Linked DNA regions of Homo sapiens. The protein of the gene in region 1 interacts with the protein of each later gene in a biochemical or structural test. Each region holds a gene or a part of one and is shown in the gene's direction. Other genes may lie near its edges.

Region 1 (8,360 bases):
AAACTCCCATGGAGTAAATTTAACAAATTTAAAATGTTTAGAAGGTAGTCACATGAAGTGTACAGCACATTGTGGTTGGTCAATGCTTTTGCAATCAGTCCAACATTTGCCTCTAAGTGTTGGGCAACCACAAACTCCATTTTTCTTGGAAGACAGTTCAGTGGATCTCCAACTCAATTTAGTCTGCTGCTGGCTGCTACTTGACTATGTGGTCAAAACTTTTGCTTTCATTCACCTCATACAGAAATCAGGCTGATAATCTTAACATTTCCTCTAACAGGAAAAGTAACTGACATGTGATGATGTATCAGTAATGGAGCATGAAGATTACCCTACTTAACATTCTTAAATGGTTCCCCAGAGCCTACAGGATAAAGTCCAGACTCCTTTAACTGGCTATCATGGATCTTCAGAATCTGAATCTCATTTATCTTTCTAATACCATTTCTCAATCCTCCCCCTTCTTACTCTCTGGCCCAGGCATGCTGAACTATTCTTAGCTCTCTGGAAAAGTCAAATGCTCTAGATATACTCTCTTGACATTTACCTGGCTAGTTCCTACTCACACTACAAAGGTCCATTTAGTGGCCTGCATCCATTTGGAGCCTATCATAATTAAATCAAGCATGCCCTAAATGCAGGAACAGTCAACCCACTTACAGTGAGACACCTCTCACATCAACATTTGCCTTTCTTCACTAATCGCTTGGTAAAATAGTTTATACTGATGACCTCTACTTTTTTTATCATCCAATAATTTCTAAACCCTTTGTAAACTTGCCTTCCCTACCATTACTCAACTTTTTTGAAGGCTGATAGTGTCCTCATAATCATTTATTTCATTGGCAATAGTTTTGGCAAATACTAAGCCTCCTTAAATTCTCTAAAGCTATCAAGATGCTAGTCACCCAGTCACATTTTCCCTTTCTTTTCCTTCTGTGACATAAAGTTATTCTGGGTCTCTTATTCTGATTGTTCCTACACTGACTCCACTTCTTTTTCTTTCACTTTTTCTTCTTTCCTGATTCTCTTTCTCTGATTGTTCCTTCATTGGCTCCACTATCATTCACTGGCTCCACATCTTCCTCTGATTAAAGATATTCTTCTGGGTTCATTAGATTAAAAACATCAGCAATAGGATGCCTCCCACTCCCTCAATTCAACAAACGCATTTGTGTATCCAGTTGATTCTAGCTTCTCAGGGAAAAAAGGAGAAATTACAATCCAGTAAAAAAAGATGTTAGTATCATTAAATATAACTTAGGTTCATATCTCAGGTCTGTCAGTCATGAGCAATGTGGCATGAGGTATACTACTTAATCAATTTAAGCCTCTGTTTTTCATCTATAAATTGGAGAAAATAATGCCTATCTTTTAGTATTACTTTATGAATTGCAGTATGCAAAGTACATATTCCAATGGCAGGTAGGTACATAGTGGGCATTTAATAAAAATTTTTCCTTATTACTGTTATTTCCACACTCACTTCCACCAAACTTATATAGTCTGTTTCAACTTCTTTTAGTGTGTCATACACATCAACAAAAGACAAATCATCTAGAGTACAGATATAAACAGGTTTCCTATCTGGCCCAGTAAGTCCCAACTGCTTGACTCAAAGCTCAATTTCTCCCGATTTAAAAATCTTCAGGTTCTAGCCCCAAGCTTCCTCTTCAACCTTCTCCCTCACTGCTCTTCTAAATGAATACCATTCTCCAAACAAATTGGACCTTTTTTGGTTCTCAAACATGCCGTATACTCTTCACCTCAAAGTCCACCTCAGATTCTACCTCCTTTATGAAACTTATCTCCCTAGCTGGATATTTTATCTTCAGAGTATTTTACTGGTACTTCTCTCAGAAGGTACTCATATTCTGCCTGGTATTCAATTATTTGTGCATAAATAACCTTTCCTGCTTATAAATTGTAACCCCTTTGAAGGGAGAAACTAGGTTCCTATTCGTGCTAGTACTTACCACTTAGCTAAGTGATAACACATGTATATTTAAAAATAATAAACAAGGCTGGGTGTGGTGGCTCAAGCCTGTAATCCCAGCACTTTGGGAGGCAACGCAGGCAGATCACCTGGGGTCAGGAGTTCAAGATCAGCCTGGCCAACATGGTGAAATCCCATCTCTTCTAAAACTACAAAAATCAGCCAGGCGTGGTGGCGTGCACCCGTAGTCCCAGCTACTGGGGAGACTGAGGCAGGGGAATCGCTTGAACCCGGGAGGTGGAGGTTGCAGTGAGCTGAGATGGCGCCACTGCACTCCAGCCTGGGTGACAATGTGAGACACCATCTCAAGATAAATAAATAAATACAAATAAAATAAAATAATAAACAAAAAACCCTGACTCTTTCTCAACGAATTATTTTCCTCAACTTCTTATGAAGAGGTAGGAATAGGGTGGGAAGGGAACAGTGTATATAGGGTACTTACAGAGGCACTGCAACCTGAATTCCCACTTGGAATTCTCCCAGCTGCTGCAAAAAGGCAGGGCTGAAATAGCTATTATAGAAATTGACTAGGTAAGACTTTAAGATCTGTTAATCGATTGCAGTCAACCTCTTGGGAAACCCTTTACCAATCTGCTAAGCTTGTCTATATTTCTTTTCTTCCCAACGGTTATTTTTCCTAACCTTCCAGTCTCCTCTAAACCAAGTAAACAAAAGATTTTAATTTAAACCCACAGTCGAACGCCTAGTGAAATACACGTGTATATTTAATGTTATGTATTAGTTCCTATTTAAGAATTTTATTTCTTTAAAATTTATTTCAACCAAAATCCAACACCAAATTCTATGGGTAATATCTTAAGGCAGCACCTAGTATAGTGCTTTGTATATAGTACACATTCAGTATGTAATGGTTAAAAGAGTGAATTTACAGTCTACAATTGCAGGACTTAATTTTGGCTAATTGCAGTGGAAAACATGAGAAAAGATATAGTCCAAGTAAGAATGACACTTGAGGGTTCAGGCCCGCAACACCAGCTAGGTAGACCCTTAGGTGGCCCAGTGGTATACAAAGATTTAAGCATTCCCAGCTGAGCCCCTTGACAATAGAGATACATCATTTTATTTTGTATCACTTAGTACTGTGCCAAATCCAAAAATACTCTCTCAAGTGCAAGAGTATTCAGGAGTTAGAAATATTGAAAGTTCCACTATTCAAGCAAATTAGGTATAGTTCATATAATTTTTTCAACTCAGGATCCTCAGTCACTCCATAGAGTAAGCAAAGTATGCAATTACTAGAATTATTAGTCTCAATTTACATAAGATCACACTGCTGGCACTAAACTCCAGTTCCAGACTCTTTTTTCCACTATTGAATGCCACAGAAACATAAAAAAAAAAAAAATGGAAGGATCTTTAGAAACCATGTAGCTGGATTTTTTTTAAGATGATGAAAACTGAGGCCCATGAAGAGAGTCACATTAGCTCAAGGCTCCTACTAAAGCCAAATAATTTCGTGCAAAATCATCTCCCTCTGATTATCATTATCTACACACACAAATACATAATTTTTCTTTTTGCCTTTCTGAAAATCTGGAGGTCTGAAAAGACTTTAAGATTTCTCTCAAGTTAAAAATACACGTTTGTACGTGTAACCAGAGGGCAAGTTTTCTATGGTCCACATGTTTTCTTAAAAAAAAAAAAAAAAAGGAAATACAGGAGATGTGCAGTGCGTGTGACAGGCAAATGTTCTCGAACTTTATTGTGTAGTGTAACCCCTATGGCACAGGCCCTTAGAATTCAGCCACATTAATGAAGAGATATTTTTATGTAGTAGAAAGAGCACAAACTTTGAGGTGTTTTGTTTTGAGACAGAGTCTTGCTCTGTTGCCCAGGCTGGAGTGCAGTGGCGCGATCTCAGCTCACTGCAACCTCCACCTCCTGGGTTCTAAGCGATTCTCCTGTCAGCCTCTGGAACAGCTTGGATTACAGGCGCCCGCCACCACGCCAGGCTAATTTTGTATTTTTAATAGAGACGGGGTTTCACCATGTTGGCCAGGCTGGTCTCGAACTCCTGACCTCAGGTGATCCACCCGTTTCGGCCTCCCAAAGTGCTGGGATTACAGGCGTGAGCCACCGCGCCCGGCCCAACTTTGAGGTTTTATCTGCCACTTACTATGCAGTCTTGGCTAGAACACTTAACTTCTTTGAGCCCGAGTTTCCTCATCATTAAATGGAGATAATTCAGGTTTGATGTGAAGATTTGAGAAGAAGGTATGTCTGACACACTGCCGAAGATCGATAAATATTTGTTGAATGAATAACACAGCCAGCCGAAGCTCAACAAAAGACACATACACAAACACACCCACACGGTTGGGTAGTTGCCGTCTCCCGGGGAGCTCCAGAAGTGTAAGCTCTCAGCCCTCCCTCTGACTTCAGAAGCCTGAAGCTACTAAGCCCGCAGCCCGGTGCGTCTCTTCGCAGCCTTAATCAGTGCCCGGGCAAAGGCCTGCAGAGAATTCTCTGGGCCTCGCACCAGGCCCCAAGAACACACTGGAGACTCGTTTCGCCTTCTCCCTCGCCGTTTCCCCCCTCCAGGGCCAGAGTCCGAGGAAGCCCGATAGCGGTTCTCGGCCTCCGAAACACAACTACAACACTGGGGAGCTTGCCCTGCAGTTAGCGTCCAGCGGGGATTAGGCACTTCGTTTTCCTCATCGTTTCAATCTCTATCTTCTGGTCGGGGTCCAAGCTCAGCGGCACCACGTCACGGCCCTTAGTGGTCTAGGCCACACCCCTCCTTCCCGACAGCCTCAAGTCCACTACCAGCGGTCTGGAAGGCCACGTTGCCTAGGAAACTGGGGCGGGGCTTGGGAAACGACGGCCCTGCGCGCAGTTTGCGCAGGCGCTCCGGCCCTGGCCTCTGACTATCGCGAGAATCGGCTCCCGGAAGTTCCACGTCAGTCAGTCTGACGGTCAGTGGATCGGTGGGTTTATCTCAAGGCCTGAGTAGCCGGTAACAAACGAGGGTTCCCGGGATTGGACCGACGCAGCCATGGTAGGTCCAGATCCCGTAGAAGGGAGCGGGGTCCCATAGGTTACGGCCGATTCCTGGAGCTTCTGGACTGAGGGCCGCGGTAAGCAGTGGTCTGGGCTCCCGCTGCGGCCGCCGCCTCAGGCCTTGCGGGGTCTTGGTCGTTTGATTCCAGGAAGGGAGAAGGCGGTGGGGCCTAGGGGACCGGGGTGATTTGGGGAGGCAAAGCCTGCTAGTGAGGGGTTTTGTCTCCCCTGGCGCTTGTGGCGCTTGCCAGAGCTCCTGCAGTCTGCAGCGGGATCGGTGGTGTAGGGAAACACAGAAGCCGAATGTGTTGAACTCCGTAGGAGGCTTTGGTAAAACTAAAGTTTGCCTTTAAAACGGTGGTAGTTAATCTACACTCCTGTTGGGCTTATTCTGGGGATAGTGTGTGCTGGCTACAAACTATAAACAAGCAAAGAAGCCAAAAACAAATGTATATGGAGTCAAAAATGGAATTTCAAATGCTTTGATATCTCAGCTGTTAGGTTTCTAAGGGGAGAAGAAGGGTTGGGAGGAAGGGGGTGCTGTTTATAACACTGGCTGGTGTGCTTTTATGCATTTGCAAATCCAGTGGCTGGTAAGAATAGTAATTGTTAGAGCACTTTGTTATTATCACCGTAACCCTAAAAAACGCCCTAGACTAGTTTGCACAAGAGTGTTATAATAATAAGGAAAGAAAACGATAGTATAAGAATATCTTCCGTCTCTATTGAAAATGCAAAAAAAAAAAAAAGAAATTAGCCGGGCGTGGTGGCGGGCCCCTGTAGTCCCAGCTACTCAGGAGGCTGAGGCAGGAGAATCGCTTGAACCCGGGAGGCAGAGGCTGCAGTGAGCCGAGGTCGCACCACTGCACTCCAGCCTGGGACAGAGCAAGACTCCGTCTCAAAAAAAAAAAAAAAAAAACTTGTTATGAAGCACAGAATCAAACATTTTGGAGCTTGAAGACGCTAGGGATTAAGTCCCTCATCTTAAGTTAAAAAATTTTTTTAAATTATGTTTCTACAAGGTTAATTGTGGCAAAGTTGGAACTAGGAAAAAGTTAGGAATACTCCCAGGGAAAATGCACAGAGAAACAAACATTTTTGCATAAAATTCAGTGCATTCATTCACAGACACCCCCCCCCACAATCCATGGACCTTCTTTTTTTTTTTAATTTGTTTTATAAAAAATATGGAACGCTTCACGGATTTGCGTGTCATACTTGCGCAGGGGCCACGCTAATCTCCTCTCTATGTGCTGCCGAAGCTAGCACTATCCGTGGACTTTCTTGGGCACCCAGGTTACAGTCCCTGAACAAGACCTCAAGCCTCTTAATTAGAGCACTTCGTATTACTAACTACCTGATGTAGTTTGGGTCTGCTGTGGTTGCAGTAATGGACGTTTTTGGAAAAGGCTCTTGGATCTGCCTAATTTCATTTTCTTTTGCCGTCTTTACATTTACCAGTGTATTTCTATAATGAAATATTGCCTTCATTCTTTATATATTTTAAATCCTTTGTGGAAAATACAAAACGTGAATTCATTCATTTGTACATTTACCATAGAATATTTAGTGTCTGCCATGCACTTTGCTAAACATGGCTGCCTAATTCTCACAGCAGCTGGGAGATAGAGTTATATGTTTGTGAAGTGGTTACTGTAGGTCAGGCACTGCTCTAACTGGCTAACTCTGAATTTAATTCTTACAGCACTAAGAGGTAGATAATAATAATATTCCTGTTTTACATAAGTCAAACTTGAAAGAGGTTAAGTAAATTTGCCCACTATTGCACATCTGAAATGAGTGGTGGAACTGAAATTTAAATCCATCATGGCTTTCTAGTCTTGTGTTATGGTATCTGTTCTTAAACCCCCATACTCAAATATATAAGGTGATCTGGAGATAAAGACATGTATAAGCAATGACCCTGGCTTTAAGGAGGATCTACTCTAGAAAGCAAGAAAAGATGTGTACACAAGTGTACCATGAACAGTTAAAATGAAATCCTATAGGATTCCCTAGGAAAGAATGCTTCAGGCTAGGGTAACTAGAAAGGTCTTACTGGTGGCAGTGGCATTTAAGCTGAGTCCTAAATGCATCCAGCTTTTGGAAGGTGGAGGGATATATTTAAAGTTGAGGATACAGTGTGAGCATCCTAATCATCTTTGTCCCAAAGTACCTAGTACATTGTCTTATTCAAAATAGTCACTTAACTGTTGGGAGAAATATTATCACAAGAACCCTTGCCTGTTCGTTCTTTCTTTCTTTTCTTTCTTTTCTTTTTCTTTTCTTTCCTTCCTTACTTCCTTCTTTCCTTCTTTCTTTCTTTCTTTCTTTCTTGACAGAATCTCACTCTGTCGCCCAGGCTGGAGTGCAGTGGTGCAATCGTGGCTCACTGCAACCTCCACCTCCCAGATTCAAGTGATTCTGCAGCCTCAGCCTGCCGAGTAGCTGGGACTGCAGGCGCGTGCCACCACGTCCAACTAATTTTTTTTTTTTTTTTTGTATTTTTAGTAGAGACGGGGTTTCACCATGTTGGCCAGGCTGGTCTCAAACTCCTGACTTCAGGTGATCCTCCCGCCTCAGCTTCCCAAAGTACTGAGATTACAGGCATGAGTCACCACGCCTGGCTGCCTGTTCTTTTTTAAACTGAGATTTGTGCTTTGGGAGTATGTAGAGGTTTACTGGGGTTGCTCAGAGTTCATTGGCCCAACTTATGGAGCATCACTTTTACTCAATAATCAATAATTTAAAATATTTTAAAGTAAAATGTTCACAATTTGTAAGTGTCCAATTTCCTCATTACTGGAGGAAAATTGTGAGACATGCTGGCTTATATGAAAACCCTCACCATGGTTCCTGCCTGGTACATAATAGACTCTTCATACCTGTTGACTCCATAGAGATTTAAAAAGAAGTTAAAATTTGTAATAGTAATTTATGGGGCAGAATTCAGAAATGAAGTAAAAAGCCTTGATTTTGGGAACTAGCAAGGAATGTTAAGATGATGATTTGAAAGTGGAAAATTGGAGCTGGGAGACCGAGGTGGGTGGATCACAAGGTCAGGAGAGGAGTTCGAGACCAGCCTGGCCAATATGGTGAAACCCTGTCTCTAAAAATACAAAAATTAGCTGGACATGGTGGCAGGCACCTGTAGTCCCCAGCTACTCGGGAGGCTGAGGCAGAATCCCTTGAACCTGGGAGGTGGAGGTTGCAGTGAGCCGAGATCACGCCACTGCCCTCCAGTCTGGGCGACAGAGCAAGACTCTGTCTCAAAAAAAAAAACAAGAAAGTAGAAAATTGGAGAGAGGAAGGGACTGATGACAGTGAAAACATTTTTGAG
Region 2 (5,729 bases), about 10 Mb from region 1:
CACTGCAACCTCTGTCTCCCTGGTCCAAGCGATTCTCTTGCCTCAGCCTCCCAAGTAGCTGGGATTACAGGCGCCCACCACCATGCCTGCCAAATTTTTTGTATTTTTGGTAGAGATAGGGTTTCACCATGTTGGCTAGGCTGGTCGCGATCTCCTCACCTCAGGTGATCCACCTACCTTGGCCTCCCAAAGTGTTGGGATTACAGGCGTGAGCCACCGCGCCCGGCCTAAAATAACTTTTTAAACTTATGGAAATACATGTTCATGTGTAAAAAGAAAACTTGGGAAATACAAAAACAAAATTCAAAACAAAGTATGAACAACAGGAAAACATTACTCATAATCCTTAGAGTTATTTTTGGGGGGAAGTGGTATAATTGAAATCATTCTTACAGTGTAGACCTTGCTATTTTAAAACCATAGTGTATTTTCCAGTATCATTACAAATACTTCATAAACACAATTTTTTTAGTGGATTTAAAATACTGTTATATACTATGTCAAAACTTGATTGACTTTTCACTCCTTTAATGTTGGGCATTTGGGTTTCCATATTTTCACTATTTATATTGCTGCATTAAATATCCCTTTAGATACAAATTTTTATCTGCATTTTAGATTATTTCTTTAGGATAGATTCCTAGAAGGAGAATAGTTGGGTCAAAGGGTAAGCATGATTTTAAGACATTTTGATTCCTCTTGTCAAATGCTTTCTGGATAAATTTGACCTGTTTGCTGTGCTGGGCAGTCCTTTCATGCACTGGAATAGCCCTTCTAAATTCTCCTATCTTAGCTCGGTGGAACTAAGTACAGGATCCTTCTGAGGTCTGACTTTGGGGCAGTGGCTCAGGGCCATCTGAGTGCAGACCATTATGCTCAGCCTGTGGATGGGGACTGTTAGAACTCCTCCTGACTAGAGGGACAGTCACAGTGGAATACAACTGACATTCGCCATTGTGTCATCCTAGAGTCACAGTTGAGGATGGATGGACCTTCCTTGAGCTGGAAATGACCCCGAGGCAGGAGCTGCTCTAAGACCAAGTGAGCTCCTTGAGAGAGCTGGGTCTGTTTGAGCCCATCCAGAGATGAAGAAAAAAAAAAAAGAGAGAGAGAGCTGGGTCTAAGTTGTATTTATATACACTGTAAACATCCACAGGAGTAGGGCCTCAGTGAAAATCTGATGGGAGAATGAATGGGGAACCTTCATGTAGACTCAGTGGGAGTATTATGTGTCAAGTTCAGGGAAGACACAGCTGAAATGGAGATAGAGATTCAGGATCTGTCAAATCCAGAGGACACAGCTGGGGTAGGAGGTTTCTGCTAGTTTCTGCTGAACTAGAAACAGCTGCTGGTCCTGAAGAGCTCATCATCCCCTAGGAGGGACAGGCATAGGAAGCAGACCTCTGAGAATGCTATGTAATTCCCTGCATGCCAGGTCCTGGAAGCACTGACACTAGGCAGGCTTAGAAGAGATGTGATCTCACAGCAGGCGGCTCTAGGCTGAATTAGTAGATTGGTACTTGGGATTAGGGCGTTTTCTGTTGAAGGGATACCATTTGCCTTTGGGCACCTCAAGGATAGGTACCTGGTCAAGTTGCTCTATGTCCCCAGAGTCTAGCACAGTCCTCAGTGCCGAGCAAGCACCTGTGGAAAGAGTTGCAGGAAGGGATGTGTGGATGAGTTCAGAGCAGAGGCCCGTAGGTGTGTAGATGGGTGCCTGATTTCTACCTCCATCTCTCCAGCTGGAAGATCTGGAAGTTACTGTAGCTGATCACATTCAAAAGGTCATGAAACTGAACTTCGAAGCAGCCTGGGATGAGGTAGGGGATGAATTTGAGAAGGAGGAAACGTTCACCTTGTCTACCATCAAGACACTTGAAGGTAAAATCCTGGGAATGCCATCTCTGGCCTAATTACTGTTCAAGATCTTTGGCTACTATTGAAGTGCTCATCCCTTTTCTCTCCAAGGATCCAGGGCCATGTCTGGAGCACATATGTCAAATGCCACTTCATTAAAAGCCCTTCAGAACATGGGGGAGTGGTGGTGGCACAAAGGGCAGATAAGATGGCTTAACAATATTGGGATTTCTCATTACAGAGGCTGTGGGTAATATTGTGAAGTTCTTGGGAATGCACCCTTGTGAGAGGTCAGACAAAGTGCCGGATAACAAGAACACCCACACGTTGCTCCTGGCTGGTAAGTGGCATTTCTAGATGGGGAGGGCCTGGATAGCTTACAGCCTGGATGCCACTGGATCCTGGGCTAAGGACTCCACTGTAAATATGGGGAGTCAAAATTCACAGCATTTAAAATTCACAAAGTATAAAATAATCTGCAGCGAAATGTTTCCTCCCTACCTTGGCTGCCAGCCATTCAGATTCCCTTCCGAGAAGCGACCAGTGTTACTATTACAAACAATACTTGTATAACCTTGCGGTTATTTTATGGCTATAAAAGCTAATAGGAACGCATTTCCTTTTTTTAACTCAAATGTTTATGTACAAATGGTATATATATTGTCCTCCGATTTGCTTTTCACTTTACATTGCATCTTAGAGATCTTCCCCGTCAATATGTAGAGCTTCCTCATTCTTTTTCTTTTAATTGTGGTAAAATATACATAAAATTCACCATTTCGACCATTTTCAAGTGTATGGTTCAGCGGCATTAAGTACATTCACACTATTGTAAAACTATGACCACCATCCATCTCCAGAACTTTTTTCATCCCAAACTGAATCCTCATTTTTTTTATAGTTGCTTAGTATTCCATTGTGTGGATGCACCACATATTCTATGGAACAGCCACTACTGATGAACATTTAGTTTGATTTCAATCTCTTGCTATTACAGATGTTACAGTAAATAATCGTGTACACACACACACACACACACACACACAGTTTACTTTGCATGTGTACACTGAGAATATCTGTAGGATAAATTTTCCAAGGCATCACCAGTTCAAAGTGATTTGTGTTTCTCATCTTGATAAATAACTCCAAGTTGCCTTCCATAGAATTGTATACCTTTCTTCCTACACTGTGGACAACATAATATGTTACCACACTTTATGATCTTTTCCAGTCTGTGTGGACAATGATATCTTAGTGTAGTTTTTGTATTTTCAATGAAGTTAAGTATCTTCTTAAATGTTGAGGCATTTGTATTTCCTTTTCTGATCATTGTCTTCATATCCTTTGTCTTATTTTCTACAGGGTTGGCTGAGTGTACCCACACTCATTCTCCTTCCCAGATTATTTACTAGCAAACTCCAGAAATAGCATTTTATATGTAAATCCTGTATCTGTATGTTTCTCTAAGAGAGAATGACCCCTTCCCTTTTTTAAAGGACAATACAATTATCATACCTAAAACAGTTAACAAAAGGAAATGGGATGATTTTTTTTGGCTGAGTGTTTATAAACAGGGTTGAAAGGAGGCTCTGCTTCAGTACCCTGCCTACAGCTGACAGTTTGTAGCCACATTGAAACAACCTAGTCCCCTGGGTCTTGCAGACACCTGCCCTGTGGTTTTCTCGTGGTGGGGCTGTCCCCTTCATTTGTGCTCTCAGATTCAGTCAACGTGCAAGAGCCTCTGTGACATGAGATATAAGCCTTTTATGTCCATCAGTTCATTTGAACTTAGCAGAAGCCTGAAATATGGTATTATCATCCCTGCCACTTTGTAGTTGAGGATACTGAAGTCCTGAGAGACAGTGACTTTCTTTTTTTTTTTTTTTTTTGAGACGGAGTCTAGCTCTGTCACCCAGGCTGGCATGCAGTGGCACAATCTCTGCTCGCTGCAACCTCCGCCTCCCGGGTTCAAGCGATTCTCCTGCTTCAGCCTCCCGAGTAGCTGGGATTACAGGCGTCCACCACCATGCCCAGCTAATTTTCGTATTTTTAGTAGAGATGGGGTTTCACTGTGTTGGCCAGGCTGGTCTCGAATTCCTGACCTCATGATCTGCCCACCTCAGCCTCCCAAAGTGCTGGAATTACAAGCGTGAGCCACCGCGCCTGGCTGAGAGACAGTGACTTTCACAGTGAAATCCCTCACTCAGGGATTTCAGCCCAGCTCTCCTGCCCGTTTCACTACACCAGAGCTGCCTTCATGGGTTGCTGCAAATGCCATCCTTAGCCTGCCCTGTACAGTCCCTTCTGCTGTATATATCTGTACTTCTCTCTTCCCTTCTAGGTGTGTTCCGGGGTGGTCATGACATCCTGGTGCGCTCCCGGCTGCTGCTTTTGGACACAGTGACAATGCAGGTGACAGCCAGAAGTTTGGAGGAGCTGCCAGTAGACATCATCTTGGCATCTGTGGGATAAGAGGCCAGCCTGCATAGGACCTCATACCCTTCCCCAACACTACCTGGAAGTTGTGCCTTCCTCATGAAACTGGCAGAAACCCCTTCCCAAGCTTCTGTATTGAAAAACAATTAGGAATCATTGCAGATTTTTTTTTATTCTGCTCCCACCTCCCACCCGGGACTACTTGCTGGTGACTTTTTTTTTTTTTTTTTTTAAATAGGGGATGATTTTAGCTTGTCCTAAATCTTGCTGTCCACCCTTCCAGGAAAGGGACATTGTAAATGAATAAAACATTCTCAACTCCTCTTGAATCTATCCCCCAAGAAACCATCTTATCCCTGTAATAAATCAGCATGTATTTATTGAATGATTGCTACTTCTGCAGACTCATGCTTCAGGGCTCCACCTTCCCCTTCAAGGCCTCCCCTAAAGAGGCAGAACACCTGCCCTGTCCCCCTTGCACCCACAGCCCTTTGGCTGTTGTAGTCCTGTGAGGCAGGACCCTCTCCCCGTCATCGCTGTCCCAGCACCAAGCCCAGGGGTGGGAGCGGTAGAGGGTGGTTGAGTGAATCAGCTAACAGGCAGAGTTCACACTCCCTCCCGTTCGTGCTTCTTCACAACGCATCCTCCTTTGATAGTCGATAAATGGAGGCTCCAAAGGGCTTGGGTCCTGTGTCTGATCGTTCCAGCATCTGGTCTTACATGGAGTGTGCCCTGGGGTTTCTGCTCCCTGTTCAGTTCAGCGAATCAGCATAGGCGAACAGCCCTCTAGAGCATTCTCTGTTGGTTGCAGATGAAGAATCTCCGGTTTAGGTCCCAAGGGGAGCAGGCTTTTAAACTCAAGCCAGGCTATTTTACCAACTTTGAGGCCAAAGTACACCCGAAAGGGCTGTTTTAAAAATCTGGGCCTCACCCTTAGAGATTCAGCTGAGGGGCTGGGGCAGGAAAGGCTTATTCTAGTGCCCACCAATGTTTGAGGGCGAAGTGCGCGATTCCTGGAAGTTCTTCTGACTTTCATTTCTTCAGTGTTCCTCCATTTTTGCCTCGCACTGTGAGGCAGCTGGCAGGACTGTGAAGTAAGGAGTGGAGTTTCCTGGTTTCCCGCCTTCCATGACCCTGTGCCCTAGACTCAGCGCGGCGGGAACCTTCCCTGCCAGCCCTGAAACACGCTGGGGGCGGGGAGGAAGGTTAACCCCGCCAGGGAACGGCCAATATGGAGGAAAGTGGAGTCCCGAGAAGCTTGGGATCGATATGTCTCCCAAGGCAGTCACTGTCTCCTGGGGAAACGGGAGAAAATTCATCCCAAACCGGAGGGGAGAAGACGCCGCCTCCGGGGCCCGAGGGCACCGCGGGAACCAAGGGCCCTTGGGGGCGGGGCCTGGCGCCGGGAGCGCGGGCTGAGGCGGGGCTGACGTGAG
Region 3 (6,003 bases), on another chromosome or scaffold:
TCTTTTGCCGCTACTGCTTTCTGATTCCTAAAAATTACTCAGAGATCACTCATGTGTTCAGTGATTCAGGTTCTGTTGAAGATACCAAAGATATTCGGTTGGTCAAAATGACGGGCATATAAAGGCTTCTCAGGTTTCTGAGGTAAACTGAAGGGTCAGAATTCCAGTTGTGGATGAAGGAAATGGTGTTATGACTGCCTCAAGGTTTTGTAGCAAGTCATAGGGAACCAAGAGGAATCTTGTTTTCCTCAGAGGTCATGCCAACTCCAACTCCCGTTCCCTAAACTGTCTCTGAGCCATAGACTAGTAATGGACTCTTCAAGCTCTACCATTAGGTATCTTTTAAAGAAAGCTGGTTATTACTATTTATTCATTTTTTTCTCTTCTGTGCAGTGCAAAAGATATGAAACATCGGCTAGGTTTCCTGCTGCAAAAATCTGATTCCTGTGAACACAATTCTTCCCACAACAAGAAGGACAAAGTGGTTATTTGCCAGAGGTAAGAGAAAAGGCCTTGGTGAAGATGTACTTAGTATTAACTATCTGATGATGGGGATGTTCTGTGAGAAGGAACTTGTGCTCCTAGTTAAGCCAGATTTGGATCAAGATAGCCTCCATTTTCATGGAGATCATAACTACATTTGAAATTTCTATACATTTAGTGAAAAACTGCCCTCATCAATAACATATTTTGTCATAACGATGGAAAATAAAATCTTTGCCTTCATTCAGGATCTTAGATTTCTTGCCCCAATTTTTTTACCATGGCATTCCAATTATTCTGTTTCTCTCTATTTTTTCTAGAGTGAGCCAAGAGGAAGTCAAGAAATGGGCTGAATCACTGGAAAACCTGATTAGTCATGAATGTAAGTCTGACAGCAACCTGGGATGAGGTACTCTGGATAAGACAAGTTATATTATGCTGGTCTAATAGAAACTGCAGCAAGGCCTGGCTTCTTTCTGATGTTCAGACTCAGGAGACTCTTTAGGTCTTAAATTCAGTCTGTTTAAAATTTTAATATGCCCTAGAGCTTTGTGATATACAATGAAAAGTTTATGCAGGAACCATGTGGAAAACCATCTCTCTCATCACAAGGAAAAACGGAAGAGAGAAAAAAAATGATAAATATCAATACCTTCTTGCAAAATCAATCTCAGTTTCTCTTTCCCAAATTGACCTTGGTAATTGATAGCTGCATAGGCATTTCAGAAGCAAAATACTTCCTTGAAAGAGGCTTCCAACTTGAGTAAGAATCATTAGGTAGAACTGGGAACCACTGGATATCAAACACAGATTAGGGTTACCTGACTCCAGGTGACTTGAAAAAAGCAGGGGAAAAAGGGATTGCTTGAATCCATGCTTTATCCCCCAAGTACCTCAGCTTTATGTGAAATAGCATATCCAAGAGGCCAACCAGTGTGATGACAACTGTGGTCCTTTCTCCTGTATCATAGGTGGGCTGGCAGCTTTCAAAGCTTTCTTGAAGTCTGAATATAGTGAGGAGAATATTGACTTCTGGATCAGCTGTGAAGAGTACAAGAAAATCAAATCACCATCTAAACTAAGTCCCAAGGCCAAAAAGATCTATAATGAATTCATCTCAGTCCAGGCAACCAAAGAGGTAGGTTTTTTATGGATACATAAAAATTGTACGTATTTATGGAGTATGTGTGATATTTTGATACATGCATACAATGTGATAACAATCAAATCAGGGCAATTGCTATATACATATCTCAAACATTTATTATTTCTACGTGTTGAGAACATTCCAAATCTCCTCTTCTAGCTATCTTAAAATATACAATAAACTATTGATAACTATATCACCCTAATGTGCTATCAAACACTAGAACCTATTCCCTCTACCCAACTTTCTATCTATTCCTTCTACCCATTAGCCAACCTGACCAAAAAGGTAAGCTTTTATGGCAGAGAACTCTCTGGATCTTAGTGAAGGTTCCTAGAATAGTGGAGCTGACTATCATAATCTTGACAACCCCAAATAAATCAGTTTTTTAAAAAATCTCTTTTATCCATGTGGCTTACCATAACCTCCCTGCATGAATTTTTCTGATGAATCTCCCCAATTTGTTAGACAGAACAGAAGATCTTGCCCTGCTCTCTCTAAAGCAGAAAGGTTCATTCTGAACCTTTCATACTCTCTCACATGTGCCAAGGAGGACCCCAATGTCACTTTTGTTTTTTGCTTCTGAAATACAGAGGGTGCACTGCCACTTACAAGTCACTACAAAGCATACAGGCTTGCATCCTCAACAGGGATATAGGTCTAATGAAGCCTTGGCCTTTGCCCCTCAGGTGAACCTGGATTCTTGCACCAGGGAAGAGACAAGCCGGAACATGCTAGAGCCTACAATAACCTGCTTTGATGAGGCCCAGAAGAAGATTTTCAACCTGATGGAGAAGGATTCCTACCGCCGCTTCCTCAAGTCTCGATTCTATCTTGATTTGGTCAACCCGTCCAGCTGTGGGGCAGAAAAGCAGAAAGGAGCCAAGAGTTCAGCAGACTGTGCTTCCCTGGTCCCTCAGTGTGCCTAATTCTCACCTGAAGGCAGAGGGATGAAATGCCAAGACTCTATGCTCTGGAAAACCTGAGGCCAAATATTGATCTGTATTAAGCTCCAGTGCTTTATCCACATTGTAGCCTAATATTCATGCTGCCTGCCATGTGTGAGTCACTTCTACGCATAAACTAGATATAGCTTTTGGTGTTTGAGTGTTCATCAGGGTGGGACCCCATTCCAGTCCAATTTTCCTAAGTTTCTTTGAGGGTTCCATGGGAGCAAATATCTAAATAATGGCCTGGTAGGTCTGGATTTTCAAAGATTGTTGGCAGTTTCCTCCTCCCAACAGTTTTACCTCGGGATGGTTGGTTAGTGCATGTCACATGACATCCACATGCACATGTATTCTGTTGGCCAGCACGTTCTCCAGACTCTAGATGTTTAGATGAGGTTGAGCTATGATATGTGCTTGTGTGTATGTCTATGTGTATATATTATATATACATTAGACACACATATACATTATTTCTGTATATAGATGTCTGTGTATACATATGTATGTGTGAGTGTATGTATACACACACACACACACACACACACACACTTTTGCAAGAGTGATGGGAAAGACCCTAGGTGCTCATAACTAGAGTATGTGTATGTACTTACATGGGTGTTTTGATCTCTGTTCTTTCATACTACATTTGAACAGGGCAAAATGAACTAACTGCCATGTAGGCTAAGAAAGAAATGCTAACCTGTGGAAAGTTGGTTTTGTAAAATTCCATGGATCTTGCTGGAGAAGCATCCAAGGAACTTCATGCTTGATTTGACCACTGACAGCCTCCACCTTGAGCACTATTCTAAGGAGCAAATACCTTAGCTCCCTTGAGCTGGTTTTCTCTGATGGCACTTTTGAGCTCCTAAGCTGCCAGCCTTCCCTTCTTTTCCTGGGTGCTCAGGGCATGCTTATTAGCAGCTGGGTTGGTATGGAGTTGGCAGACAGGATGTTCAACTTAATGAAGAAATACAGCTAAGGCCTTGCCAGCAACACCTGCCGTAAGTTACTGGCTGAGTGAGGGCATAGAAGTTAAAGGTTACTGTTTTTATCCTCTATCCTTTTTTCCTTTCCTGATCAAGGTGCTCTTCTCATTTTTTCCTGAGAACCTTAGCCATCAGATGAGGCTCCTTAGTTTATTGTGGTTGGTTGTTTTTTCTTTATAATGGCTCTGGGCTATATGCCTATATTTATAAACCAGCAGCAGGGGAAAGATTATATTTTATAAGAGGGAACAAATTTTCACAATTTGAAAAGCCCACATAAGTTTTCTCTTTTAAGGTAGAATCTTGTTAATTTCATTCCAAACATCGGGGCTAACAGAGACTGGAGGCATTTCTTTTTAGGCTCTGAGACTAAATGAGAGGAAAAGAAAAGAAAAAAAAAATGATTGTCTAACCAATTGTGAGAATTACTGTTTGAAACTTTTCAAGGCACATTGAAATACTTGAAAACTTCTCATTTATGTTATTTATGATGTTATTTTGTACGTGTTATTATTATTATATTGTTTTATAAATGGAGGTACAGGATATCACCTGAATTATTAATGAATGCCCAGGAAGTAATTTTCTTCTCATTCTTCTAAAACTACTGCCTTTCAAAGTGCACACACACGCGTCCACATACACTGCATTCGTTGCTCCAGTATAAATTACATGCATGAGCACCTTTCTGGCTTTTAAGCCAATATAATGGGCTGCAAAATGAAGACACCAGAGTGTATGCATACAAATCTCACTGTATTAAAGATGCAGGTTTTCTAATTGTACCCTTCTTGTCTCTCTGGCAATCTTGCCCTTAATATCCCTGGAGTTCCTCATCAGTGTCATTTTCTGTTATACACAGTTCCACAATTTTGTCTCTAGTTGACTTCAAATGTGTAACTTTATTGGTCTTGCCCTATTATAATTGTCATGACTTTCAGATTGTATCTGAACTCACAGACTGCTGTCTTACTAATAGGTCTGGAAGGTCACGCTGAATGAGAAGTAAATTATTTTATGTAATACATTTTTGAGTGTGTTTTTCAGTTGTATTTCCCTGTTATTTCATCACTATTTCCAATGGTGAGCTTGCCTGCTCATGCTCCCTGGACAGAATACTCCTTCCTTTTGCATGCCTGTTTCTATCATGTGCTTGATAGGCCTCAAAGCTAATGCTTCCAGTGAAACACACGCATCTTAATAATAAGGGTAAATAAACGCTCCATATGAAACTATTTGCTTGGAAACACATTAATGATCCAGAGACATGCTATGAGAAACATCAGGGTGTAGGGTGACTTTAGAAAAATACTCATACTGAGTCTTTAATCCCTCCTGTGCCAGTGAACTCTGGGAAAGAAAGTACAAACTGAATATTGTTTATTCTTTAGTTCATGCCACTGCTCTGCTTGGCTCTACTCATAGAACCAAGGCAATCTTAGCTTCAGAGACTGCAAAACAGATTAAGTGATTTGCTTGCAGATTCTCAATCAATTTTCAAGGGATAGAGTTCACCTTCCAGAGCCATTCTTTTATTTCCAGTTACCCGCCTGTTTGAGAGATGATAGAGCAGTGGGAAATTGAGAGAGTTGAAAGGAGCTATAGATTCTTACCCAAACTTCAAAAATCCTTCCCTCCCTTTTGTTAATTCTCTTTCCTGGAAAAGAGGTCATAAAATGTTCACATCCTCAGTAATAGGCCCTGTGCTGTGTCTATTATGTCATGAGACTCCCATTTCCTGACCCTTCTTTCCCATTGTAAGAGTAGTAGTTACAAGGTGTTAAGGATAGATGATCTTCAACACTTTTGAGAAATAGATCCATTTACGGATCTGGTAAAAACTATGGACCGAACCATCTTTTAAGAAAAAAATTCAGAGAGGAATCTAAATTTTGTGTGCTTTGAGGGGAAACTCTCAGAATCTCCCCTCAAAACTATCATTCTTCTCTTATACTATAGATGTGTCAGACTCTCACTGGGACTGTATAGTTGCTGCTCCCTGTATTTGATAATATCTATCAAGAACTGCAGGGTAATTCAAAGTCACGCTATTAGCAGCAAGTGTGAGCAGTGTTGGTTTCCCCAGTCTCTACATCCCTCATCCTTTCTTTCTTCTTTATGGTTGTCTATTAAAGAAATAAAAAAAAATATTGGCTGACCGTTTTTCTGAAGATAATGTATATCAAGGACCACCTTTTGAAAAACACTCATTATTCGAGAACAAAGACACAACATACGAGAATCTCTGGGATACATTCAAAGCAGTGTGTAGAGGGAAATTTATAGCACTAAATGCCCACAAGAGAAAGCAGGAAAGATCTAAAATTGATACCCTAACATCACAATTAAAAGAACTAGAAAAGCAAGAGCAAACACATTCAAAAGCTAGCAGAAGACAAGAAATAACTAAGATCAGAGCAGAACTGAAGGAAATAGA

What was found.
Region 2: the proteins of COPB2 (region 1) and COPG1 form a complex in vitro, tested with the Homo sapiens proteins (one study listed by BioGRID).
Region 3: the proteins of COPB2 (region 1) and RGS4 form a complex in vitro, tested with the Homo sapiens proteins (one study listed by BioGRID).

The regions. Positions count from the first base shown.
Region 1 is NC_000003.12:139,386,206-139,394,565, reverse strand, and holds the start of COPB2 (coatomer subunit beta'), read left to right. Parts: upstream 1-4,918; 5' UTR 4,919-5,015; coding exon 5,016-5,018; exon of another isoform or gene 5,019-5,097; intron 5,098-6,201; exon of another isoform or gene 6,202-6,287; intron 6,288-8,360. UniProt on the Homo sapiens protein: The coatomer is a cytosolic protein complex that binds to dilysine motifs and reversibly associates with Golgi non-clathrin-coated vesicles, which further mediate biosynthetic protein transport from the ER, via the Golgi up to the trans Golgi network.
Region 2 is NC_000003.12:129,273,096-129,278,824, forward strand, and holds the end of COPG1 (coatomer subunit gamma-1), read left to right. Parts: intron 1-1,742; coding exon 1,743-1,881; intron 1,882-2,098; coding exon 2,099-2,197; intron 2,198-4,198; coding exon 4,199-4,329; 3' UTR 4,330-4,678; downstream 4,679-5,729. UniProt on the Homo sapiens protein: The coatomer is a cytosolic protein complex that binds to dilysine motifs and reversibly associates with Golgi non-clathrin-coated vesicles, which further mediate biosynthetic protein transport from the ER, via the Golgi up to the trans Golgi network.
Region 3 is NC_000001.11:163,072,002-163,078,004, forward strand, and holds the end of RGS4 (regulator of G-protein signaling 4), read left to right. Parts: exon of another isoform or gene 1-142; intron 143-393; coding exon 394-498; intron 499-803; coding exon 804-865; intron 866-996; exon of another isoform or gene 997-1,276; intron 1,277-1,376; exon of another isoform or gene 1,377-1,454; coding exon 1,455-1,621; intron 1,622-2,319; coding exon 2,320-2,559; 3' UTR 2,560-4,801; downstream 4,802-6,003. UniProt on the Homo sapiens protein: Inhibits signal transduction by increasing the GTPase activity of G protein alpha subunits thereby driving them into their inactive GDP-bound form. Activity on G(z)-alpha is inhibited by phosphorylation of the G-protein.